7 linked regions of the Homo sapiens genome follow. The protein of the gene in region 4 purifies or fractionates together with the protein of the main gene of each other region. This does not show direct contact. Each region holds a gene or a part of one and is shown on either strand. Other genes may lie near its edges. The genes, in order: PADI3, HSPG2, HP1BP3, PYHIN1, BAZ2A, AGRN and SAFB2.

Region 1 (3,975 bases), about 140 Mb from region 4:
TTCTCCCAATACGGTCCAGAGACTGTTCCCCAGACATCCTGCATATGGCAGGTTTGGGGATGCTTGAGGCTGTCCACAGGCCCAGGACAAAGCCTTAAACTGATGATGATGATAATGGTGACAGTTAACATAACTGAATGTTCACCACAAATCAGTATTAGTTACATGCTTTGCACACACAATCTCATTCAATGCCCCTAACTGCCCTTTGAAGTAAGGCCAAACTGGGTTACATCCTGGCTCTGCCACTCACTGGCCATGTGACCTTGGACAAGTTGTTTAACCTCTCTGTGCCTTTGTTTTCTTATCTATAAAATGACGATGATGACAGTGCCCACTTGAGAATTTTGTGAGAATTAGTTAACATATGGAAAGCGCTTACAGGCACTGCTGGGGAGTGGCATTCAGTGCCATTGCTGATATTATTATCATCCCCAGGCAACAGGTGAGGAAACAGAGACTCAGAGAAGTTAAAGGAGTTTCCCACGGTCAGAGAGCTGGGAAGTTGCAGAGCCAGGACTGAGCCACAACACCTACTGCCCTTTCTCTTGTTGGCCCGCAGGCTGAGGACCCAGGATTGTTACATCATGGCACCTCCAAGCCGGGAGGGACCTCAGAACTAACTCAGTCCTGCTCCCCTTCCCAGAAAGGAGTCCTTTCTGTGGCACCCTTGTAAGAAGGTTGTCCAGCCTCTGCTGGCTTCTCAGAGAGGAGGAGCTGCTTGTTCTCCCCTGTATGTGTCCCCAGAGCCTGTGCTCATCCTTCAAGGCTCTGAATGGTACACACACTAGACCCAAAAGAAATACTTGAAGAATATGTGAATGAACGAACTAGGAGCTCTCCACTCCCACCCCTGGGGGGTTTGGCCACCAGGGCCCAAGAATCCCTCATTTGAAGGTATCAGAGCTTCCATCCCCCACCCTGTGGCTGTCCCACCGATGGCCTTCTCTGCAAACCTCCAGTGTGGCTCAGGTGACTCCAGGAAGCTATGGCCTTTATCTCTTATTGCCCCAATCCATCCTCTATCCTCTAAGGAAGCTCTGCGGGGGAGGAGCCAGGCCCAGGCTTCCTGGGACAGGTCAAACCGGAGACACATCTGCCCAACGGGCACGAGGCAGCAGGGGCAGGTGAGTCACCCCATGGCACGCAGCCCAGTCACCCCATGGCAGGCAGGCAGTGGTGCCAAGTGGCAGATACCCCTCCTTCCTCATTACCTCCTTGGCACAGCCTCCGTGGCTGCCCCTTCCTTCAAGAACCACTGAATCCCCTTCCTCCTCCTACTGCCCACCCACCAATACCAGGATTTATTTCCTGGGCTGGCTCTGCTCCCGACTTGGTTCCCTCCCATGACCAGCTCCTCACCCCCTCTCATCCAATGCCCTGGATCAACCCCATCGCTGCTCCCGACTAAGTTCGCCCTGATTTTTCGAGTCTTAGTCTTGGAGACTCGTTCTCAATGGGTGGGCTATTTTCTTCCCACCCCAGGGCACATTTGGCAATGTCTGGGGACATTTTTGGTTGTCACAACTCGGGAGTGTGCTGCTGGTATCTAGCAAAGAGAGGCCCAGAATGCTGCTCTCCATCCTACAGTGCACAGGGTGGCCCCCATGACAAAGAGGTATCGTGACAGCAGTGCTGAGGTTGAGAAACCTGGCCTGAGGAGAGGGCTGGGAGACTTGAGAGGTGAGAGCTGTCCCACAGTTCTGCACCCTCCCCTCCCAGTATCCTGATTACCTCCAAGCCAGGACCCTGGATTCTCCCCAAAAGCCTAAGAAGCCAGCTCCCTGGTGGTCCCCAGAGCCCAGCTCTTAAAACCCTACCCTAACCCTCTTTTCTTCCTAAGAGAGAGAAGATAAGGCCTTACCTCCCTCTACCATGGGCCTCAAAGGCATGACCTGGCACACAGTAGGAGCATAATGCATGGGCATTGAGTGTCTAGAGGAAACCAGGTTGGAAATCTTTATTTTCCAAGTATCAGAGCAGCTAAAACCATAAGACTCCTGAGTAAGACCACAAGCGGGTTTAAACCCTGGCTTTGCCACTTAGTAACTGTGTGACTTGAGCAAATGGCTTGCCCTCTCTGCCTCGGTTTTCTCATTTGTCTGATGAGATGATGCTAATAATAAGCCTAGCTCACAGGGTTGTTGTAAGGGTTAAATTCAAGATTAAAGTTCAAAACTTAACTCAAGAGACTTGTGAAGCTCTTAGAATAGTGCCTGGCACATGGTAAGTGCTATGTATTAACTTATTTTTTAAAAATGATTCATGCTCTGTTTCTAGGCTCATAGGCTCAGGATGGGGCTGGGGATATCTGCCTGTTCCTATTCTTGTGTGCCCCAGACAGATCCTCAGCCCAACCTGCAGCATCCCTTGGACATAGAAAAGTGCCATCTCTTCGCGGCACCAGCCCCCTCCAAGCCCCCGGTCTGGAGCTCAGTCACTGAAGCCTCTTCTACCTGGCTCAGCCTCCCAAACTTCAAATTCCCTGGCTAAGGTCTTCAGGAAACTCAGTAGAGCAAGAGGAGGACCCAAGCTTCCCTGATTGGCTGCTGTTCCGAGGCCAAGGCTGGGGAGTGGGCCCTGAAGAAGCCCTGCCCAGCCTGCAGGGAGGAAGGTCCAAGGGCATCAGCACCAAGGGCCTGCAAACCACTAGGCCTCTGACTCTTACCCATAAATGTCCACGAGGGTCTCCACGCCAGCCACACACACCGCGCTGGTGGGATGCTCCAGGGACACACGCACGATTCTCTGCAGCGACATGCTGGTGTTGGACTTAGCTGTGGCCGCCAACCCCAACACTGCCCCTGAGGCCCCTTAGGATGAGGTTTAAAAGCCCCTGGCCCCACCCCTCCAGCCCAGGGTGCCAATTCATTGGCTCCAGTCATGAAAGCCCAGCCCCTTCCCAGAGCTGAGAGCTCAGGATTGGCTGGAAGGGACCCAGTATTTGTATACGAACCTGTTGTCCCGACCCCGGCACCCAGGAAGTTAATTTCTTGGGAAGCAAGTCCCCACAGGTACCTGGCTAGGCACCAGGAACTGTTGGGGGCAGGTGCTGTTGAGGGGGTGCAGAGATATATGATATTGATCTCGGACGCTTCTTGCTTCCTCACCTCCATTTTCTGCATTTTCAGAGACTATAATGGGGAGCTTTCTTACTCTGCTGGGGAAGCTGGTGAAAATGCGGATTCCCAGGTCTGTTGTCCACTCTGATCCAGCAGGTTAGGGGTGCAGCCTGGCCTCTGGATTTTTTTTTTTTTTTTTGAGACGGAGTTTCACTCTTGTTGCCCAGGCTGGAATGCAATGGTGCGATCTCGGCTCACCGCAACCTTCGCCTCCCAGGTTCAAGCAATTCTCCTGCCTCAGCCTCCCGAGTAGCTGGGATTATAGGCGTGTGCCACCACTTCCGGCTAATTTTGTATTTTTAGTAGAGACGGGGTTTTTCCATGTTGGTCAGGCTGGTCTTGAACTCCAGACCTCAGGTGATCCACCTACCTCGGCCTCCCAAAGTGCTGGGATTACAGGCATGAGCCACAGCACCCGGCCCTCTGGATTTTTTAATAAGCACCCCCAAAGCATTTTGGTGCCCTTTGAGAAACACCAACTTTTTTTTTTTAATGGATTTTAGAGCCAGACCTGGGTTTCAGCCCTGCCTCAGCTGCTTCCTGGATGGGCGACCTTGGGCAAGTTTCTTTTTTTTTTTTTTTTTGAGACAGAGTTTCGCTCTGTCACCCAGGCTAGAGTGCAGTGGCGTGATCTCGGCTCACTGCAAGCTCCACTTCCCGGGTTCACGCCATTCTCCTGCCTCAGCCTCCCGAGTAGCTGGGACTACAGGCGCCTGCCACGGCTCCCGGCTAATTTTTTGTATTTTTAATAGAGGCGGGGTTTCACCGTGTTAGTCAGGATGGTCTCGATCTCCTGACCTCTTGATCCACCCGACTTGGCCTCCCAAAGTACTGGGATTACAGGCGTGAGCCA
Region 2 (3,973 bases), about 140 Mb from region 4:
TCAGTTCAGTACCCAGTGCCCACTATGAGGCACTGTGATTAGTGGGTGAGAACAGGTAAAAGATACAGGCTGAGGCTGGGTGCGGTGGCTCAATGCCTGTAATCCCATCACTTTGGGAGGGCAAGGCGGGCAGATCACAAGGTCAGGAGTTCGAGACCAGCCTGGCCAACATGGTAAAAACCCCATCTCTATTAAAAATACAAAAATTAGCCAGGCGTGGTGGCACGCCTGTAATCCCAGCTATTCAGGAGGCTGAGGCCGGAGAATTGCTTGAACCCGGAGGCGGAGGTTGCAGTGAGCCAAGATCCCACCACCGCACTCCAGCCTGGGGACAGAGCGAGACTCCTTCTCAAAAAAAAAAAAAAAAAAAAAAACAAGCTGGTAAGCATGTAGGCAATGATGTGGGCCTGTGTGTGAAATGTGCGTGCCTGCGAGGAATCTATGTGAAAAGGCGTCCTCCCGCTCCGTGACTTGTTGGGATGTATGCGTGAGTGAGGGGCTGAGTGTGGTGTGAGGGCTGTCTCCTGTGTCCCTGGTGGAGGTGAGAGTTTGGAAGCGAGTTAAGTGTGCATGTGAGCCGGTGAGGATTGTTGGTACTTCAGAGTTGGGTCCAGAGTGTGAAAGTGTTCCCGGGTAGCGCACAAGTGTGTTCGTGCAGTAAAGTTATGGTGTGAAGGTGTTCTTGGGTGTGGAAGTTGGCGTGCACGTGTGGCGCGGAGCGGCAGCTGCGTGCGTGTGAGCGTGGGAAGGAGATCCCGGGATCTTCAAAAGCTGCGCGAGTGGAGTCGGCCGTGCGGGGCGTGCAGGGGCGTGGAAGTCGGCGGCGCGCGCGGGGAAGCGGGGGAGCCGGGGATCGGGGAGGCGAGAGCGCCTGGCCCGGCGGCCCCATCCCATGCCCGGGCCCGGGCCCCCGGTCCCCCGCCCCGTCCCATCCCATACTCCAGGCCGGGTTTGGCGGGGAGCCGGGCCGGGCCGCGGCCCGCGCGGAGGGGGCTGGGGGCCCAGACAAAGGCCTAGTAGGCTGCGCGGCCGGCTGGGGCGAGCAGAGCCCGCGGCCCGGGGGCGGTCCGTGGGCGGGGCCTGGCGCTCCGGGGAGGGGCGGTTCGGGGGCGGGGCCGGCGCTGCGGGGGCGGGGCGGGCGGGGAGGAAAGGGGGCGGTGGGGAGAGGGCCGCGCTGTCCCGAGCTGGCCGGCGAGCGGGCGGCTGCGGGCGGCGCGGAGCGGGCGGCGCGGAGCGAGCGAGCGAGAGAGCGGCGCGGGCCGGGCCATGGGGTGGCGGGCGGCGGGCGCGCTGCTGCTGGCGCTGCTGCTGCACGGGCGGCTGCTGGCGGTGAGTGTGCGGGGCAGAGGGGCGGGGGGCGGGGGCGGAGGGGCTAGGGGCGCCCCGGTCCCGCTCGCCGCCTCCCGCCAACTTGGCTGGGGCGCCCAAGGCTGCGCGGCGGGGACTCTGGCCCGGGACGGCGGCGCCCGCCGGGGACCCCGGGCCGGCGCCACCCTGCGGCATGGGGCTAATCCAGGGGGGCCACCAGTCAGGACCCTTCGTGGGGCTGGGGGCGGGGCTGGCCCGTGTGGGAGCCCGTGGGTCTCTCGGCCACGTTGCCGAGTGCTGGAGTCTCGCTGGGCATGGTCCGGCCTACCATTCCTGGGGACCAGGAGGGGAAACTTTGAGCAGGGTGGGAACTTGGCAGGACGAGGGAACCCTTCTGCGCCAGCTTGGCAGAACGGCCACTCAGTGGTGATGGGGACCCTATGAGTCTCGCTGAAACTTTACCACACCGTCTATCACCTTGGGGAGCTTGGACCCAGGTAGGCACAAGCAAAACTTTTGGGACAGAACTGAAGCTTGTGTGGAACACCCACGGGCCTTGGAGTCATACAGCCGAAGAGTTGAATCAATCCCTGCCTTTCACTGAGTAACTGTGTGACCTGGGGCACGCTAGTTAACCTCTCTGAGGCCAGCCCCACGTGGGTCAAGGGAACTCAAAATGCACGGCCTCAAAATGCATAGCTGCAGGGCGTTGCTGGACTGCGTGGAATGAGCTGCAAAGTGCGTGGTGCGGGGATGCAGTGCACCCTTGGGGGACCCGAGTTCCCCAGCTTTCCTCTTCCCAGGTCTCCAAGAGGCAGGGAGAGGCCTGCCCTTGCAGTCTAGTCCCCTACTCTGAGCTTAGGTGGAGGAAAAGGGAATTCTACGGTCAGGAATCCCGAGGCTTAGAAGGCACTTGGCCAGCAGAGGCCCTGAGGACCTGAGTGAACTTGAGGAGGACTGGGTGGGGTCGGTGGGCAGGGAGCTAGTGGCAGATGTGGGTGGGGGCACATCTGGGGAGCCGAGCCTACCGTGGGGAGCCACAGAGCCACCCCCACTCTCTCCGAGGTGCTCCTAGGCAGTCCCCATACCTGCCTCCCTGTTCTCTGAGCCAAGAGAGGGACTTTTCTAACCAGGCTGGTGTTTACCCAGGAACTGCCTGCCTGGCCTCACCTTCCTGGCTTCATCGCACCTCTACCCTCCTGAGTCACTCGTCAAGCCCCCACCCAGACCTGGCTCCTCACTGCTCTTGCCCCACCCACCCAGCACTTCTCCTCCCCCATCCCCACTCTGGGCAGCCTCCTCTGTCGTCCTCCTGTTTCAGCCTCTCACCCCAAAATATTCAGCAGGGCCATCCAGTAGCTCCCTAGTCTTGACCTGAACTTGCACTCCTGGCACTGACTTTTACTTTTCCCAACGCACCAACCTAGCACGTGGGATGTTTTCCGAGGCCCAACAGTCTTTCCTGACCTTCCCCCAGCTCTGCCCCCGATGAGGGGCTCCTCCATGCCCGGGTGCGGTAGGATGGCGGTGGGTGGAGTTGTTTGCTGTGTGCATGAGGAATTTCCACAGACATTCCTGGACCGTGGCAGATCATCTCATTCACTTGTTCATTCAACAGATCATCACTGAGCGACATTCCATGGCAGTCACTGGGAGTACAGAGGTTCATTCTTTGGGCAGATATTTGCCATGCACCTACTGTGTGCCAGTGAACCAGTGAACCTCGTGTGGTGCTAGGGGCTGGGGTGGGTTGGACCAGCAAGGACAGGCCCTGTCTGTGCCTTCCCAGCACTCACAGGCTGGTGGGCGGTAATTTAGACAAATAAACAGGCAGCTCCAATCCTGTGGGATTAGAGAGCCTTCTCAGCAACACATGGAGGGTCGCTGTCCCACCCCAGGCTGCTGGTGGTGGGCTGGAAAGAGCTTGGCCCCTGAAGTCTCTTTATAAAATTCTTTTTAAAAAGTTTTTCAGGCCAGGCGCGGTGGCTCATGCCTGTAATCCCAGCACTTTGGGAGGCCACGGTGGGCGGATCACGAGGTCAGGAGTTTGAGACCAGCCTGGCCAACATAGTGAAACCCCATCTGTACTGAAAATACAAAAATTAGACGGGTGTGGTGGCGCATGCTTGTAATCCCAACTACTCGGGAGGCTGAGGCAGGAGAATCGCTTGAACCCAGGAGGCGGAGGTTGCAGTGAGCTGAGACCACACCATTGCACTCCAGCCTGGGTGACAGAGTGAGACTCCGCCTCAAAACAAACAAACAATAAAAAGTTTTTCGGGGCCAGGCGCGGTGGCACACGCCAGTAATCCCAGGACTTTGGGAGGCCGAGGCGAGCGGATCATGAGGTCAGGAGTTCAAGATCAGCCTGGCCAGCATAGTGAAACCCTGTCTCTACTAAAAATGCAAAAAGTTAGCCAGGCATGGTGGCACGTACCTGTAGTCCCAGCTACTCCGGAGGCTGAGGCAGGAGAATGGCGTTAACCCGGGAGGCGGAGCTTGCAGTGAGCCGAGATCGCGCCACTGCACTCCAGCCTGGGCGACAGAGCAAGACTCTGTCTCAAAAAAAAAAAAAGAGGGCATCACACTTTGTTGCCCAGGCTGGTCTCAAACTCCTGGCCTCAAGCGATCCTCTCGCCTCGGTCTCCTAAAGTGTTGGGATGAC
Region 3 (3,500 bases), about 140 Mb from region 4:
ACCTTTTTAATTCATTTATAGTACCCAGTTTTTAAAGAAGATTTATTTTGTAAAATTTTGCTTATGGTACATGTCATCTTAGCCTGTAAATAAATTAAAGCATTAATTTTTATCCCTCCCTGGTCTTTTCCTCCTTCTGACTTTATACGTCTTTCTAGAGAGCTTATCTTCTATAATAACAATTCTTTGTTTTAAAGTGAGAAAGATCAGTCTAAAGAAAAGGAGAAGAAAGTGAAAAAAACAATTCCTTCCTGGGCTACCCTTTCTGCCAGCCAGCTAGCCAGGGCCCAGAAACAAACACCGATGGCTTCTTCCCCACGTCCCAAGATGGATGCAATCTTAACTGAGGCCATTAAGGCAAGTTTTTATTTCAAGCAATTCATCTTAGATTTATTATGTTCATTTTTTTCTTATTTGAAAATGGCATATATCTGTCTAGACATCATAAATCTTGTTCTGCTTCCTAAAGGAGTTTTAAAGAGAGGAAAGTCATTATAAGTTCATGTTTTTCTAATATAATCACATTTGGTGAACACTGTTAATTTTTTTAAAAAAATTATATTTAATATAGCAAATATTTTAACTTTAGAATTTTTAAATGCAGTTTATCGATTAAGTACAGTTTTTATTTGAAGGCTGAAAATGTTAATTCATTGAACAAACATTTAAGGACTACCTTCCTCTGTTGGGCGCCCCTGCTAGTGGTGAATTAACTAAGGCTAGCAAAGTCCTTGCCCTTATAAATCTAATTGTGACTCAGTAACTGAAAAATATTGAGAATTTTTGTTTAAAAAATATCTCTAGGTTCATTTCTAAAGCTAAGTGATCTTGGTAGTGGTTATCTTTCACACCTGAACCCTGTTAATAAACACTGCTTTATTACCTAGACATTCCAAAATGCTTACAAAAATTATCCTCCTTACATAGATTTATGATTTCATTGACTTTCATTAGATGTAGTTTTCCTATTTTAATTTTTAAAGGTTATCTTCTAATTTGACATTGCCTTTATTGTATAAGTCTTTTCATTTAATTTTGCCTTGTTTAGTTCATATGATCAGATGATAAGAGGAGTTAGAACAGACCCATCTTTCAGGGACCCTGTTGTTAGGATCTGAGGCAGGACTGGGGAGACAGGGATACAGATGATTTTAACCAGAAAAGGGGGGATGTGTACGAAAAGGAGCAGCCTGGTTGTCATTCTCAGAATATGAGAAGATAGCACTAACACATAAACTGGAAAAAGGGTTTGCCTTCAGACTTCTCCCTTTACTCCTTCAAGACTTCTTATGCTCTCACCTCATTAAGAAAACTTTATTGGTCTAGATTACCTCACTGTAGTGAAATCTCTGTTCTTTGTATAGCCTTTCTTCAAGGATTTCACTTGATGACCACTCAGCCTGGGTTTGAAGGAGCAGCATCATAGTGAGGATGGAAAAAGGGCTGAAACTTTAAAATAGTGAAATAAAAAATTAAAACAATATCAATTTGGCTTAAAGAATGGTTTGAATATAATTGTGCATATTTATGGAGATGATTGATTTTATATAGATAATGTGTATTCCATGCAATATGACAAATTATTGTTTCAGACCATGGATACCATTTTCTGTATTGAACAGGAATCATGATGTCTACTACCATCTCACTGTCGGATTGGTGGAGCAAAAGATTATTTGTTTCAGCATTAGTGTTCTTTTCTGCTTGATTTTCTTTGCTCTGTGTTTTCTTTTAAGATCAGGAGTAAACCTCAGTAGGTCATTAATAGTTCAGAGACATAGACTTGAATTACATGACCCATATTAATACAACTTGTTTCGTGTTGTGCAATCTTTTCTGGACCATCTACCTGTGAGTTATTTTTCTTTGTTGTCAAAATGTATAAAAACATTCAACGAAGTTCTTATCCAATGAGAATGAATAAGTGCTACATTGATTTAATAGACACTGTGGCAGTACAAAATTGATGGACTAGCTCATTAGATAAATGACAGATGCTACTTTTGTGTGTTTCAAAATTTAAAGTATTTGATTTCAAGTCAGTGACCAGTTGGAAAACAAAATTTTAAGCATTTGAAAAAAATTAAGTATTTGCTGCCTTTGTGACATAATGAGCTACTTAATTCTTCCAGGTGCATTAGTCAAATGGAGTATAAGTAAAATAGGATGGAAATGGAAGAGGGCACATTAAATTCAAATAGAACACCTTCACTATTACCCAAAACTCTCCTTCAGCACTTTGCCATCTGTAAACCCATTTTTATGCCACTTATTCAGATTATCTTTGATTCTTCTTTCTGCTGACATTCATACAGAGCCTTCAGGGAAATGTCCTGGCATGCTCATTCCTTAAGCTCGTGCCTTAAAATGGGACAGATCTGTGATCCTGTAAGTGATAGGTTTGTTCTGCTTTTCTCATTTTGATGCCAAAGATTCATCTTCTAAATACAGAATGGAATTAAAATGGAAAGAGGTTCTTCATTATACATAGAATGTTGTTCGTGTTCAGTATGGTCTCTTAGGCTGTTTTGAACAATTTAAAATTGTAGTAGAAATATTTAGTAATTCTGTTACTTCTCTGTAGTCATTATGAACTGAAGTCTTCTGAAGTTCATTCTTCCCTACCGTTTTTGTCATCTATCATCAAATTCACTTCCAAAATAATTTATTTTGAAAATATATGTCAGGCTCTATCTAATAAAAAAAAACAACTAGTTTAATAAATCTTTTCTAGGCATGCTTCCAGAAGAGTGGTGCATCAGTGGTTGCTATTCGAAAATACATCATCCATAAGTATCCTTCTCTGGAGCTGGAGAGAAGGGGTTATCTCCTTAAACAAGCACTGAAAAGAGAATTAAATAGAGGAGTCATCAAACAGGTATTACACAATTGTTAGTAGTAAGATCATTTCATTGTGTATTAGCTTTAAGTCTACAGTTAGTAACATTTAGGCTTTTTGTGCCTTTTTTGTTAAAAATAAGTTTCATGATGATGAAATTCCTTAAGTTTAACCTAGTTGAATTATCTGAGGCTAGGTTTCGAAAATGCTGGTGCCATTAAGATAGTGTAACTTTTTTCTAGCTTACTTTGCTCTTAATTGGATATTTTTTGGGGGGCTGCTTGTGCTTGAAATCATGTAGCACTGAACATGAAAAAGAGGTAAGGAATCCTACTACTGAAACAGCAAAAATGAGGCTAGGGATGGTGGCCTACACCTGTAGTCCCAGCACCTTGGGAGGCTTAGTTGGGAGGATCACTTGAGCCCAGGAGTTCGAGACCAGCCTGGGCAACATAGCAAGACCCCTTCTCTACAAAAAATACAAAATCAGCAGGGTTTGGTGACACATGCCTCTAGTCCCAGGTACTTGGAAGGCAGAGGCAGGAGGACCGCTTGAGCCTGGGAGGTTGAGGCTATTGTGAGTTACGATCTCACCACTCCAGCCTCGGTGAGAGTGAGACCCTGTCTGAAAACAAAAAGGAATAACAGAAATAATAATTGC
Region 4 (3,500 bases):
CCTGGGTCCCATGACTCTTATCTCCCAAATATAAATTACAAGGATCATTAGATTGTTGAAAGAGTTTCTCTTCTAATCCCTAACTGTGTACAATCTCTAGATAAAATTAAATCACCCATGTATTTATTGAATGCATACAGTGAGATACTACCACATGATAGTCTTTGCTATCTAAAAGATATTTATTTGTGCAACGATTGCTGACCACAAGAGGGCTAGTATCTTGTCTTGCTCCACCTATGGGAGGGGTAATGGCCAGAGAAGTAGAGATGAAGACAAAGAGTGTGTTATGACCCACATTCCAATTTCTTTCACAACTTTCCCCTTTGCTTATTGGTATTATTTCTGAATTTATTTTCAGCATTCCAAGTTGAAATAAATATTCGAAGTATATATTTGGAAACATGCTATTTCATTGTTGGGAATCTATTTCTCCCATCTCATCACTGGCAAGAATTTCCTTAAATTTCAGACACCAACTTAAGTATTTTCCTCTGGCAAGTCCTCAATGATACAAGATAGCAGAACTGTTGAGTCCTCCTATTGTTTGCTTTTACAGGGCCTCCTGTCAATGAGAGTAAAGTACTAATTTCACAGAAGTGAACAGAGAGGCTTATCATATAAGATGTTTTCCATACTTCCTTGATCTGGGGTTTCCCTTAATAGGGTCAGTGTAGCACATGATATATTTGTAGAAAAGAAAAAAACTACAAGTCCCAGCATAGAACATGTAACGACAATGTTCTGTGTTTGAGCATTTAACTAGGTGTTTGGTCTTACATGTTGTTCCTGATGTACATTATCTCATTCCTTCTTCATAACCATCAAGAGGATGCTACTTTCTGTCCCAATTGACATAGAAGAAAATAGACACACTCAAACATAAAAAAAAAGTCTTCCTCAAGTTCTCAAAGACAGTGTTAGAGTCAGGATTCATATCCAGCCCTATTGAAATGTAAAACTTGAACAATTTATGATTATATGGGGCTTTAGATTAAAAGTTGAGATATACTAATGTCAGCAATTTATTTTACAAATTTCAGAATTGACAGTGTCATTTAATGAATATGTTTGCATAGCCCAGGCTCTGCAGGGCTTCTCAAAAATAATGAGGTACCCAGAATGAACAAAGTGTACTGTCATACAGAAGCCACTCTCCAGAATTAGAGTCCTCTCATTCTTCTCTATAACAGAGTGCTTTTTATATATTACATAACTGAATTCTAGAAGTGGTAGAACTATGGAAAGTAACCTATTAATGAATGGTAAAAAAAATCAGTGAAAATAGAGAAAATTATATGATTGAGGAGACCTATGTCCTTGCTTTTGGAAAAAAATGTTAAAAAACATTTACTGCAAATGCTCAAGTAGATTGTTAAGTATTTCTAAATATGATTAACAGCCCTGAGGATTCTGGCTAACTTATGCAGACTACAAAACAGCAGAATTCTGCATCTGGAATTGTGGATTTGAAAGAATCCTTCTAGCACAGTGATTAGATAGATAGATAGATAGATAGATAGATAGATAGATAGATAGATGAAACATAAAGCTGGATTTCCTACAATCTAAAGAACAGACAACAGGTACCCATTTGTGTATTTCCTTGACTAGAAAGACTTAGTTAATAAACACCCATCAGACATTTTCAGAGTGAAGTTTGTAATTCCGGTTTCTGTGTATGCAGAAGAGGAGATTTAGGGAATTTACATTTATACAGATATTCCAGAGAACATTCACAAAGAGAGGGTCCTGTTAAAATGGATAAAATATTTATTATGTTGTGACTCATATTGAAAATTATTGACCAGAAAAAAATAATCTATTTTCCTCCCAACAATTAAGGACACAAACACTGAAACTCCTGACCTCAATCTCCTAATTCAGCCCCAGAGCAGAGTGAGCCTCAGCAAACTGCAGTGAAGAACTCATTTCCATATGGGTTCCAGCATCAGGTTTCTCAGTTATGCCCAAAAACCACATCATGCAGTTTCTTACACAAGATACTATCTTGTATTTCCCATTCCTGTGCTTCACAACATCATAATTACTAGGGTGATTGGATCATGACAGGTAACTCATTGATCCCAACTGAATACAATCTTTTTAATAAAATTTATTATCATTAGTTAAGTATATTCTTTGAGACCTTATTAGATTTTGTCTTTTGGTGTTTACAAAGTATATGTTCATGAAATCATTCCTGACTCAAGAGGATTACTGTCTTTTGTTGGTCCAGGTGTAGAGAGAGATTGTGGGGATATAGCCAGATAAAGGAAGATGAATACAAGAATGTGTTCATTACCTATATTCCAGTTACCTTTCATCCTTTCACTTTGTTTATGGCCATACCTCAGGTTTTATTTTAAACTATCCATGGTCTTTTCCAAATCAGAAGCTTTGACAAAGATTGCTTCCTTTGCTGGGATCATTTTCTCCAGTCTCTTCTCTAACCCACCTCTCCAGCCTAAATCCCTTCCTAGGACAAGTTCTCACTGGTACCTGTGGGGGTTTGTCCTGCAGACCCTGACCCAACAACAGATGAATAACATACACTGACACAGATATTCTGCCTGTCAGTTCGGCTAAGGGTCCAGACCCATCACAGACACCAAAGAAGGTGCTGTAAAGAGTAGCAGCCACAGCCTCCACTAGCCAGCCCTGCGGGCATTTATTTAGCACAGATTTAATTGACAAAGGCTTTGAGTCAACACACCTGTAGGTAATTAATCTGATCACCAACCCCCAAGTAAAGAGCGATTATGCACCCACAGTTGATCAAAGGTTGGTCTTAAGACCACAGAAGTAAACAAGCTATTTAGATAAACTACCTCCTTTGTACCCACTTTAAGCTATTTACTCAAGGTAAGGATTAGGCTGCTTTCAGCCATAGCCCTATCTTGAGACTTTTACAAAACCTTCCAGCCTTCCAAGAAGATTTGTGTCTATGTCCTAGAACTTCATCTTAAAATTTTTCCACCAGCCTGACTGAACTACAACATGTCCCCCTTTTCTGTTTTCTGCATCAGGTTCTCTTGACTGAAGCATACAGATGTGTGCAGCAACAAGTCTGTTGGGTGGGGCGGTCATTGCTATTATTCTGGCTTTGCATCCTAGAATTAGCAAATAACATAAGATAATCATGAATATAATTAGCAGCATTCTTTTCCAGTCAGAGTGACCCCCAGGAACAGGTGTCAAACCAGTAGAGATAATCTTGCACACCCTTCCATATGGCTGTTTGTTGGGTGTGTGGATCTATAGTGTGAAAGGATTCTAAAATTTTAGTTTTAAGTTGCTTTATGTCTGCTGCCAAATTGTCATGAAAGGTTTCCCAGAGGTGTTGTTTCACCTCATTCCAACCATGTATTGATTGATTCCATGGTAGAGAAATGATACAGATATGTTTATGCCCCCAGTTGCAGTTTCATTGCTGTTGGAATGCCAGTGCGTCTTGTTGCTCCCCCACATATTCTAAGGCAGCCTCGAGGGATTGCAGT
Region 5 (3,500 bases), on a different chromosome or scaffold from region 4:
AGAATTGGATGTTTTCTGACCAGTGTTTCTTAAATCTTGCTTTCTGATTTTTTTCTCATTATCCTGCTCTGATTTTTCTACCCTTGTAAACAGAGCCAGTGAGTGGAGGACTATATGGTATTGATGACACGGAGCTGATGGGTGCAGAGGACAAGCTGCCTCTTGAGGACAGCCCTGTGATTTCTGCCCTTGATTGCCCTTCCCTCAATAATGCTACTGCCTTCAGTCTCCTGGCAGATGATAGTCAAACATCAACCTCTATCTTTGCCAGTCCCACCTCTCCACCTGTCCTAGGGGAGTCTGTCCTGCAAGGTAAGTGACGGTAGGTAGGACAAAGAAAGACCTTTACCTGAGAAAAGATGAGAGAATAAGTTTCATAGTTAGGGCCTTAAGAGTGGGAAATCTGGCTGGGCGCAGTGGCTCACGCCTGTAATCTCAGCACTTCGGGAGGCCGAGGCGGGTGGATCACCTGAGATCAGGAGTTTGAGACCACCTGGCCAACATGGTGAAACCCCGCCTCTACTAAAAATACAAAAATTAGCCAGGTGTGTTGGCACATGCCTGTAATCCCAGCTACCTGGGAGGCTGAGGCAGGAGAATCGCTTGGCCCCAGGAGGCAGAGGTTGCAGTGAGCCGAGATTGTGTCGTTGCACTCCAACCTGGGCAACAGAGCAAGACTCCATCTCAAAAAAAAAGTAGGAAAGCAAGAGCACCTTGCTGGGAGCTGAGGGGCTATGGGATAGTGTATGGTGGAACTAAAAGAGGTATAGGCTGCTATACTCCGACCTGTGCCCTCTGCTTTGAAGAACTTGTGAGACTTGGAATTTGTAGGGAGAAGGAGGCTAGAAGCTTTATTGGCACCAGGTAAAAGGTATTTCTTCACACAATGACATCTGTAGCAACTTTACCCTTTAATCCTCATGATTGGTTGGGAGAAAAAGCTACTTCTTTTTCCAACCCTAGGGAAGACCCCTTGAAGTAACCCTGTTTAGCTTGGTCCAGGGTTGACTGAGTAGATTCTCTTGTTTTATGTGATGCCTTTTTTTTTTTTAAAGCCTATCCTGTCCCTTTGGATTCTAGATAACAGCTTTGACCTGAATAATGGTAGTGACGCTGAACAGGAAGAAATGGAAACTCAATCTTCAGACTTCCCACCATCCCTGACCCAGCCAGCTCCTGATCAGTCATCCACTATTCAGCTACATCCAGCAACCTCACCAGCAGTCTCGCCAACAACCTCCCCAGCAGTCTCCCTAGTGGTTTCTCCAGCAGCCTCCCCAGAAATCTCTCCAGAAGTTTGTCCCGCAGCTTCTACAGTTGTCTCTCCAGCAGTCTTCTCAGTGGTCTCTCCAGCTTCCTCAGCAGTCCTCCCAGCAGTCTCCTTAGAAGTCCCGTTGACGGCTTCAGTGACATCCCCAAAAGCCTCTCCCGTAACTTCCCCAGCAGCTGCCTTTCCAACAGCCTCCCCAGCAAATAAGGATGTCAGCAGCTTTCTAGAAACCACTGCTGACGTGGAAGAGATCACTGGAGAAGGACTCACTGCTTCTGGTAGTGGTGAGTATCCAGATTCTATTCTATCCCTGTCTGGTTCCAAGAAACTTTTCTGTCCCATGTTGTAGTTAGCCTTTCCCTATTGGCCTATTGTTTAAATATTTTGCTTGAACTCTTAACTTGGGTATCCCTTCCTCCCAAGGTGATGTCATGAGGAGACGTATTGCTACCCCAGAAGAAGTTCGTCTTCCCCTCCAACATGGGTAAATGCTCTAGTTTGCTACATTTATTGACCTTGACAAGTTTAATGCACAACTCTAGAAAGAAGGGAATGCCTCTTTTCCTCTGAGGTGGGGGAGGAATGGGCCAGACAAGAGTAGATTACAGGACAGTTATCTGCAGTGATAATGTTTCTTGGCATGAGATTCCTAGGTTTTCCTTCTTCTCTCAAGGTCTGTCTTCCATCACCTATTCTTTTTTCATCTTGTAGTGACTCAATTTTGCCCAAGGAGCTCCAGCTATTATCTTTTCCAAACCCTAGGGCTCACATCCAAACCAGCTGGCTTGTCCTATTTCTGTGGACAAGGGATAGTAATGAATGAGGAGTGACTTAGTACTAATGAATTGAGGTGGTTTTGTTGTTTTAATGCTCTTAGGAGAGGTAAGGGCAGGAACAGTACATGACCAAAATGAACAAACTAGCTGACACCAGGGCCTTGTGGAAATAACTGCCTTCCTGGATCTTCCCCACCCCTGCCCCTCAAGGCTACTTGTGGTCACCAAGTCTGAGTACTGCTTAAAATTTTGAGAGAAAGATTAGAGTTAGTCTTAGAACTAACTCTGACTAACTTTGTGTTCTGCTCAGAACACAGAGTTCCTAACTAAACCCTGGCATATTGAGTCTTTTCATGGAATCAGCAGCAAATTTATTTTTCTGCTTGCCTCCCTGCCCTTTGTCTTCTGTCTTTATTCCCCTTAGGTCTTTATCCTCTTTACTGGAAATCCAGTAACTGCCCTGAATGGCTCAGGGAGGGGTTTCTGGCAGCTTATCTCACTGATTTTGTAAAGGAGGGATGGAGATCTCTCTGAGCTTGTGCAGTTTGGTGTAGTGCTTTTCTCCTAAGGGCCTTGATGTATTTGCTGGAGCTCAAGTCAGCCTTCTAGCCAAGCTTATCTCTCTTGGTGCTTTTGCATCTGCATGCAGTTCTAGAGATACAAATGTGGGGAGGGCCATCTGCTCAGAGGGCTTCGCGCTTAGGTGGCATGGGAGTGGGTAGGGGTGTGACCTGGCGGCAGGGCCCATGTGCTTCTCTGGCAGGTGGCGGAGAGAGGTGCGCATCAAGAAGGGCAGCCACCGATGGCAGGGGGAGACCTGGTATTATGGCCCCTGTGGGAAGAGGATGAAGCAATTTCCAGAAGTGATCAAGGTAATGTAGCTTTTTTTAAAGGACTGCTTTCTTGGGCTCAGTGGACTCCTTTCCACTGCCCAAGACTCCGTTCTTGGGCTCAGTGACAACAGGCTGGCATTGTCTGCTCTGGGCCTGTTCTGCTTATGCCTTTGCTGGCCAAAGACATGGTAGGATCCAACTTTATTAATGTTACTTTACTTCTTCCTCTTAGTACCTGAGCCGCAACGTGGTACACAGTGTCCGCCGAGAGCACTTCAGCTTCAGTCCCCGTATGCCTGTTGGAGATTTCTTTGAAGAAAGAGACACGCCAGAGGTGCAGACCCAAGGGTTAAATATGCTTTTGTCCCTGAGGAAGAGTTGGTGGACAAGCTGCAGCTTCCTCTCGTGGGGTTTGAAGGTTCTGGGGCATTGAATGGTTCCGAGGGCCTCGTGGCCTGCACTGATTCCTTACTACTGTAACAGTCTCCCTTGCTACCTTAGGGCTTGCAGTGGGTGCAGCTCTCAGCAGAGGAGATCCCGTCGAGGATTCAGGCAATTACTGGCAAACGGGGTCGACCTCGAAACACTGAGAAGGCTAAGACTAAGGAAGTCCCCAAGGTG
Region 6 (3,500 bases), about 160 Mb from region 4:
TCCGGAGGCTCTGGCTCTGGGGAGGACGGTGACTGTGAGCAGGAGCTGTGCCGGCAGCGCGGTGGCATCTGGGACGAGGACTCGGAGGACGGGCCGTGTGTCTGTGACTTCAGCTGCCAGAGTGTCCCAGGCAGCCCGGTGAGCTCTGTACCCCTGGCTCTCGGCGGGCGGCGGGGACGGGGCTGCGGCCGCTCACACTGACACCACCCTCCAGGTGTGCGGCTCAGATGGGGTCACCTACAGCACCGAGTGTGAGCTGAAGAAGGCCAGGTGTGAGTCACAGCGAGGGCTCTACGTAGCGGCCCAGGGAGCCTGCCGAGGTGAGCCGGCTGCACGTGGGGTCTCAGGCACAGGCGGGGCGGCGTCTGGGTTTCCGTGTCTGGATGTGGGCGTGCCCGTGTGCTGCGTTGGGCCCCTGTGGACGTGTGTATTGTGTTGTAAGTGAGCATCGTCCAGTGTTGGTGCCTGTGCACATTTGTGCAGCTGCGTGTGTGGGCGTGTGTGTCCATCAGTCAGTGGGCGTGCACCAGGCCAGGCCTCAGTGCTGAGAGGCAGCGTGAACCATGCGGGGCCCCACCGTGTGGGCACTTTCTCTGCATACGTCCATCCGGTCGATGTATCACATCAATTAGGTAAAAGTGGTGCCCGGTGTGTGTGATGCGCGTGCACAGATGTGTGTCTGCAGAGGGGCGTTAACTGTACGGTTTGGAGGAATGTGGGTGAGAACGCATGCTGACGTCTTCAGATGTCTGTTTCTCGATTTGCAAGGAAGCTCGCGTGTGTGTGTGCACAGAGCTGCGTGTCCGTGATCTTTGGATGCTCTGTGTGTTGTGTGTTCCTGGATCTGCATTTACAGACATGTTCTTGCGTAAGATGTGGGAGCCTCACCTGTGTCCTCAGCCCCAGGCTCCCGGGCTCCTCTGGGAGCTGGGATCGGGACGGCTGAGTGGTGACAGTGGGGGTAGGTGGAGGCAGACTGGCTGGGTCCAGGGTGGGTGTCCAGCACTGCATGAAATCTGAGTCCCGTACCCTTTCCTGCAGGCCCCACCTTCGCCCCGCTGCCGCCTGTGGCCCCCTTACACTGTGCCCAGACGCCCTACGGCTGCTGCCAGGACAATATCACCGCAGCCCGGGGCGTGGGCCTGGCTGGCTGCCCCAGTGAGTACCTGAGCTCAGCCCCGACCCCGGGCCTGGTGCGGCTGTGCGGCCACGTGACCTTGTCCTGCCCTGGCCTTTCAGGTGCCTGCCAGTGCAACCCCCATGGCTCTTACGGCGGCACCTGTGACCCAGCCACAGGCCAGTGCTCCTGCCGCCCAGGTGTGGGGGGCCTCAGGTGTGACCGCTGTGAGCCTGGCTTCTGGAACTTTCGAGGCATCGTCACCGATGGCCGGAGTGGCTGTACACGTGAGTGACAGGGCCCAGGACTGGCCACCGGCTATGCCCTCCTACCTGTTCACCCCCATCACTGTGCTTCTCCTCACCTGCCCAGGCCCTGGCCTGACCCACACCTGGCTGGGGGCTGGGCAGAGCCAGGGTTGGGGACCAGGCTCTGGAGGAGGTGGGGAAGCCCGTCCAGGTGCGGACATCACGTTCCTCCCCGATTTTCCCCAAAGCCTGCAGCTGTGATCCCCAAGGCGCCGTGCGGGATGACTGTGAGCAGATGACGGGGCTGTGCTCGTGTAAGCCCGGGGTGGCTGGACCCAAGTGTGGGCAGTGTCCAGACGGCCGTGCCCTGGGCCCCGCGGGCTGTGAAGCTGGTGAGTGAGGGCCAGCGCTACCCTGGGGCTTCATGGGGTGGGGTGGGGTCACCCGAGCCACAGAGGTTTCCCATGCCCGTGCCCCAGACGCTTCTGCGCCTGCGACCTGTGCGGAGATGCGCTGTGAGTTCGGTGCGCGGTGCGTGGAGGAGTCTGGCTCAGCCCACTGTGTCTGCCCGATGCTCACCTGTCCAGAGGCCAACGCTACCAAGGTGAGGGGTGTGGGATGTGAAGGGGAGTGGGGAGGAGGCCTCGCCTTGAACATCCTTGTTCTCTGCCCCAGGTCTGTGGGTCAGATGGAGTCACATACGGCAACGAGTGTCAGCTGAAGACCATCGCCTGCCGCCAGGGCCTGCAAATCTCTATCCAGAGCCTGGGCCCGTGCCAGGGTGAGGCCTGACGGCCACTGCCCCAGAACTGACCAGGAAGGCCTGACGCTGCCCTAAATCCAGCCCCACCCGCCCTGAGCCACCTGACCCTGTCCCAACCGGTCCCCCCGCCAACCTCCCTCTCCTTGCAGAGGCTGTTGCTCCCAGCACTCACCCGACATCTGCCTCCGTGACTGTGACCACCCCAGGGCTCCTCCTGAGCCAGGCACTGCCGGCCCCCCCCGGCGCCCTCCCCCTGGCTCCCAGCAGTACCGCACACAGCCAGACCACCCCTCCGCCCTCATCACGACCTCGGACCACTGCCAGCGTCCCCAGGACCACCGTGTGGCCCGTGCTGACGGTGCCCCCCACGGCACCCTCCCCTGCACCCAGCCTGGTGGCGTCCGCCTTTGGTGAATCTGGCAGCACTGATGGAAGCAGCGATGAGGAACTGAGCGGGGACCAGGAGGCCAGTGGGGGTGGCTCTGGGGGTGAGCAGGGATCAAGGACTTGGGGTGGGTGGGCAGGCGCCGAGAGGCTCCACCAGAGCCTGGGCTCAGAGCGCGTCTCCCCAGGGCTCGAGCCCTTGGAGGGCAGCAGCGTGGCCACCCCTGGGCCACCTGTCGAGAGGGCTTCCTGCTACAACTCCGCGTTGGGCTGCTGCTCTGATGGGAAGACGCCCTCGCTGGACGCAGAGGGCTCCAACTGCCCCGGTGAGTGGACGGCTGGGCGAGGGGAGTGTGAGGATAGCCTGGGCTCGGCCGAGGTGCTGCCCCCTCGCCTGGGCAGCAGGTCAGTGCCGGGGGTTATGGTCTTGGGACTCGGCCCCCTCAAACATGTGCGTGCCGGGGACCCCACGCCTAACCCGTCTCTCTCGTTGCAAGCCGGTGTGGCACACTGCTCTGAGGAGTCCTCCTGGTAACCGACACCAGCCCCACCCTGGGGTCCCCACTAACCTCATGACCATCTGACTAACATCCACCTTCCCTTGCACCCTTGTGGCTTGCTGCTGGGGCCTGTGCCTGGGCCAGCCTGGATGCCAGGCAGATGCCAGGCAGGGCCTCACTGTACCTCCCCCACAGCCACCAAGGTGTTCCAGGGCGTCCTGGAGCTGGAGGGCGTCGAGGGCCAGGAGCTGTTCTACACGCCCGAGATGGCTGACCCCAAGTCAGAACTGTTCGGGGAGACAGCCAGGAGCATTGAGAGCACCGTAAGACGGGGGCGCAGCCCCCACCTACCCACTGGCCTTCCTCCCCAGATACCCAGAGCAGCACCAGGGCAGCCCGGCTTGGGCGGCCCCCCAAGTCCTTGCCTACTCCCTGCCACAGCTGGACGACCTCTTCCGGAATTCAGACGTCAAGAAGGATTTTCGGAG
Region 7 (3,500 bases), on a different chromosome or scaffold from region 4:
TAACAGTCTGTCCCATTCTCCCGAGTTTGGGCCCTGCCCTGCCATGCCACCCACCCCATGACCAAGCTGACCTAGTGGCTGCTGCAGCTGGCAAACACCCCCTTTGTCAGAGAAGAGGTCACAGTGGATTTAAGAAAAAAATACTTCTCCCAACATAAACTGATTTGTAACTGAAACCTGTCATAACAAAATGATCTCTCTACTCTGCTGAAAACCTTTTCCGACATCTGTCTCACTTAGGACAATAGGTCCAATCCTTCTGGTGGCCCAGACTCAGCGAGGCGGGCCCAGCTGCTCTGCAACACCTCTGGCTTCTATCCAACCCTGTGTGCTCCCCTCTCTCTTTTGCATCAGAGACACCACCCAAACTTTCTGCTCCAAATTCTTCTTTCCCTCTTCAACCTATCCGTCAGACCTCTGGGAAGAGTTCCAGGCACTTATGAAGTCCAACCACCAGAACTGCTCCCTCATCACACTTCTTTCTCCCTTCTGGTTACATATTTGGTTTGATCCCACTGCCCCTGCTAGATGGCCAGCCCTGAGACTGTTTCTCTTCTGCTAACCTCTTAACCCCAGCATCCAGCACAGTATCCAGTCATTTCCATACACATACACACTGCTCTTTCATTATGGAAAATCAACCACTCGATTAACATTTCCAGCGATGCAGAACCAGATGGTAACTTACCGGAGTTACTTTGAAGTTCAACGATGAAGTTTCCAAAGTGTTCTTAAATCCTTCCCCATCCACCTGAAAAACAAAATGGAAGATGACTTCGTGGAGGCTGGAGCTATGAAAACCAAGGCTGACACCTCGCTTAGGCAACTTGTGTGTCTATTTCCCTCACGGCACCTTTTGCCATCTGCAAGTCTACTGTTGGGTCATTCAGTTCAGCACCTGCCTCTCCGCCAGAACACACACTCCACGACTCTGCTCCACCAGCGTCTCTGGCAGTGGCCTGCAGGTGGGTATGCCCTGTCTGTACTGGGTGAATGAACGAATGAATTTCCCAGGCAGTTTCTAAGTACTGGTGATTACCACATACCCCTCCAATCACAGGATTTCCAAAGCAGAACTCAAAATGATAAAATGCACCCCTCCAATTTCACCTGGTAGCAATACTCTTAAGGTAACACTAACCGGGCACTTTCTCCTAGCCTACTTTATTCATTCATTCATTCACTCATTCATTTGAGACGGAGTGTCACTCCTTTTGCCCAGGCTGGAGTGCAATGGCGCCATCTCGGCTCATTGCAACCTCCACCTCCTGGGTTCAAGCAATTCTCCTGCCTCAGCCTCCCGAGGAGCTAGGATTACAGGCATGCACCACCACGCCCGGCTAATTTTTTGTATGTTTTAGTAGAGACGGGGTTTCACCATGTCCAGGCTGGTCTTGAACTCCTGACCTCAGGTGATCCGCCCACCTCAGCCTCCCGGAGTGTTGGGATTACAGGTGTGAGCCACCGCGCCTGGCCCGCCTAGCCTACTTTATTAAAAACAAACATCTAACTTGGTCAATTTCTCTCTTTACTACATGCCAAACAAAAGAAAAACTGTTAACACCAAGTTTTACTAAATCTGAAGCTCTTTTTAAGTGAACTACAAAAACAGCACTCCCAAATATTTTCTTTTTTCCTTTTCTCGATTTGAACTCATGACCTGGGATGCCTCCATTAACTGAGAAGTACACACTCTGAAAACAATAAGCACACAGCAGTACCAGACTGAGAAAGGCGGCTAACCAGTTGCTCAGTGCTGCCCTAGGTCAAAGGATGGTAAATTTGGAGGCAATGACTTTTGACCGTAAGGTTTAAGGTTCAGTCCTATGGAGGCATTTCCACCCCCAAGCTGAAAGCTGCAATGCCTTAAGGAAACAAAACAACCTACTGGGCACGTGACATCAGTCAGAGTACAATGAAGATCAGCTCGAAGACACTGACAGCTTGTGATATTTGAACAGCCTCACCAGAGAGCTCTACGCCAAAACACTAGAAGTGAAAAGCTGGGAAAGCCCTAACAGAGCAAAGTTCCTCCTTTACATACAAGGATGCTCACAGTCAGTCCTTTTGGGGAGCAGGGTTGATACTTGTCTTCACTGTACTTTACATCTTTTAATGTAACTGCTTAACCTTGCTTAAAACAACATTAACAGGCTAGGCGTGGTGACTCACCACTATAATCCCAGCACTTTGGGAGGCCGAGGCAGGCAGATCACTTGAGGTCAGGAGTTCGAGACCAGCTCAGCCAACATGATGAAACCCTATCTCTACCAAAAATATAAAAAATTAGTCAAGTGGCTGGGCGCAGTGGCTCAAGCCTGTAATCCCAGCACTTTGGGAGGCCAAGGCGGGCAGATCACGACGTCAGGAGATGGAGACCATCATGGCCAACATGGTGAAACCCCATCTCTACTAAAAATATAAAAAAATCAGCTGGGCGTGGTGGCGCATGCCTCTGGTCCCAGCTCCTCAGGAGGCTGAGGCAGGAGAATTGCTTGAATCAGGGAGGCGGAGGTTGCAGTGAGCCATAATCTTGCCACTGCACTCCAGCCTGGGTGACTGAGAGAGACTCTGTCTCAAAAACAAACAAACAAACAAAACACAACATTAGGAGGAATATCTACATGATGAGATTAGAAACCATTTTTGAGCTGGGCACGGTGGACCACACCTATAATCCCAGCACTCTGGGAGGCTGAGGCGGGAGGATTGCTTGAGCTCAGGGGTTCAAGATCAACCTGGGTAACCTAGTGAGATCCCGCCTCTAAAAAAAAAAAAATTTTTTTTTAATTAGCTGGGCGTGGTGGTTCACTGTGTAGTCTCAGTTATGCAGGGGGATTGCTTGAACCTGGGAGGCTGAGGCTGCAGTGAATTATGATGACCCCACTGCACTCCAGCCTGCACAACAGAGCAAGACCCTGTCTCTAAATAAATAAACCATCTTTGCTTCTTAAAACTGTATTTTAAAAGGAAAAAACTAAATGGGCACTGTGGCCTGTGCCAATAAGCCCAGGTAGTCAGGAGGATCGCTGGAGCCCAAGAGTTCAAGACCGGCCTGGGTAACAGTTGAGACCTCATCTCAGAAAAGAAAAATCTTTTATGTCAGAGCTTTCTATTTTATGACTCACCACATGCTTCGAATTATAAAAACACTCCCCAGTGCTACAGAAAAGCTATCTATGAGTAAATCCCTGAGCTACACAGCGTTTAAATGGACATGGTTTAACACCAGGGTGTAGAAGCAGAACTGTGTGTTCATGGCGGTTTAGCTGTGTTCTCCCTCACACGAGCAGCACGCGAGCACCAGGTGCCTCGGGGCTATGGGCACATCCTGCCGTGTCTCCAAGTTACCTACAGCATGCTCTGGGGGCTGAGCCGGGAGCTGTCTCAGCTGTGCAGCCACGTATTCTTTACTATCACAAAAGGAATCGAGAAGGCCGTCCGTGCCATCCTCCCCAAAATCTGGAGCACTGCTATTCGCCACTTCAGTTTCGTCTAGC

What was found.
Region 1: the proteins of PYHIN1 (region 4) and PADI3 purify together in Homo sapiens (affinity purification with mass spectrometry; 3 studies listed by BioGRID and IntAct, with this or other methods). This does not show direct contact.
Region 2: the proteins of PYHIN1 (region 4) and HSPG2 purify together in Homo sapiens (affinity purification with mass spectrometry; 2 studies listed by BioGRID and IntAct, with this or other methods). This does not show direct contact.
Region 3: the proteins of PYHIN1 (region 4) and HP1BP3 purify together in Homo sapiens (affinity purification with mass spectrometry, with the first as the bait; 2 studies listed by BioGRID). This does not show direct contact.
Region 5: the proteins of PYHIN1 (region 4) and BAZ2A purify together in Homo sapiens (affinity purification with mass spectrometry; 2 studies listed by BioGRID and IntAct, with this or other methods). This does not show direct contact.
Region 6: the proteins of PYHIN1 (region 4) and AGRN purify together in Homo sapiens (affinity purification with mass spectrometry; 2 studies listed by BioGRID and IntAct, with this or other methods). This does not show direct contact.
Region 7: the proteins of PYHIN1 (region 4) and SAFB2 purify together in Homo sapiens (affinity purification with mass spectrometry; 2 studies listed by BioGRID and IntAct, with this or other methods). This does not show direct contact.

The regions. Positions count from the first base shown.
Region 1 is NC_000001.11:17,247,923-17,251,897, reverse strand, and holds the start of PADI3 (protein-arginine deiminase type-3), read right to left. Parts: upstream 2,801-3,975; 5' UTR 2,761-2,800; coding exon 2,669-2,760; intron 1-2,668. UniProt on the Homo sapiens protein: Catalyzes the deimination of arginine residues of proteins.
Region 2 is NC_000001.11:21,934,511-21,938,483, reverse strand, and holds the start of HSPG2 (basement membrane-specific heparan sulfate proteoglycan core protein isoform b precursor), read left to right. Parts: upstream 1-1,173; 5' UTR 1,174-1,266; coding exon 1,267-1,329; intron 1,330-3,973. UniProt on the Homo sapiens protein: Integral component of basement membranes. Component of the glomerular basement membrane (GBM), responsible for the fixed negative electrostatic membrane charge, and which provides a barrier which is both size- and charge-selective.
Region 3 is NC_000001.11:20,770,308-20,773,807, reverse strand, and holds part of HP1BP3 (heterochromatin protein 1-binding protein 3), read left to right. Parts: intron 1-197; coding exon 198-357; intron 358-2,734; coding exon 2,735-2,878; intron 2,879-3,500. UniProt on the Homo sapiens protein: Component of heterochromatin that maintains heterochromatin integrity during G1/S progression and regulates the duration of G1 phase to critically influence cell proliferative capacity.
Region 4 is NC_000001.11:158,945,052-158,948,551, forward strand, and holds part of PYHIN1 (pyrin and HIN domain-containing protein 1 isoform alpha 1), read left to right. Parts: intron 1-3,500. UniProt on the Homo sapiens protein: Major mediator of the tumor suppressor activity of IFN in breast cancer cells. Promotes ubiquitination and subsequent degradation of MDM2, which leads to p53/TP53 stabilization.
Region 5 is NC_000012.12:56,609,827-56,613,326, reverse strand, and holds part of BAZ2A (bromodomain adjacent to zinc finger domain protein 2A), read left to right. Parts: intron 1-93; coding exon 94-312; intron 313-1,080; coding exon 1,081-1,554; intron 1,555-1,693; coding exon 1,694-1,754; intron 1,755-2,787; coding exon of another isoform or gene 2,788-2,809; coding exon 2,810-2,918; intron 2,919-3,111; coding exon 3,112-3,213; intron 3,214-3,380; coding exon 3,381-3,500. UniProt on the Homo sapiens protein: Regulatory subunit of the ATP-dependent NoRC-1 and NoRC-5 ISWI chromatin remodeling complexes, which form ordered nucleosome arrays on chromatin and facilitate access to DNA during DNA-templated processes such as DNA replication, transcription, and repair.
Region 6 is NC_000001.11:1,044,120-1,047,619, forward strand, and holds part of AGRN (agrin isoform 2 precursor), read left to right. Parts: coding exon 1-138; intron 139-214; coding exon 215-320; intron 321-1,041; coding exon 1,042-1,158; intron 1,159-1,239; coding exon 1,240-1,404; intron 1,405-1,613; coding exon 1,614-1,757; intron 1,758-1,844; coding exon 1,845-1,969; intron 1,970-2,040; coding exon 2,041-2,146; intron 2,147-2,277; coding exon 2,278-2,616; intron 2,617-2,700; coding exon 2,701-2,838; intron 2,839-3,207; coding exon 3,208-3,335; intron 3,336-3,453; coding exon 3,454-3,500. UniProt on the Homo sapiens protein: Isoform 1, isoform 4 and isoform 5: neuron-specific (z+) isoforms that contain C-terminal insertions of 8-19 AA are potent activators of AChR clustering.
Region 7 is NC_000019.10:5,612,777-5,616,276, forward strand, and holds part of SAFB2 (scaffold attachment factor B2), read right to left. Parts: coding exon 3,356-3,500; intron 752-3,355; coding exon 689-751; intron 1-688. UniProt on the Homo sapiens protein: Binds to scaffold/matrix attachment region (S/MAR) DNA. Can function as an estrogen receptor corepressor and can also inhibit cell proliferation.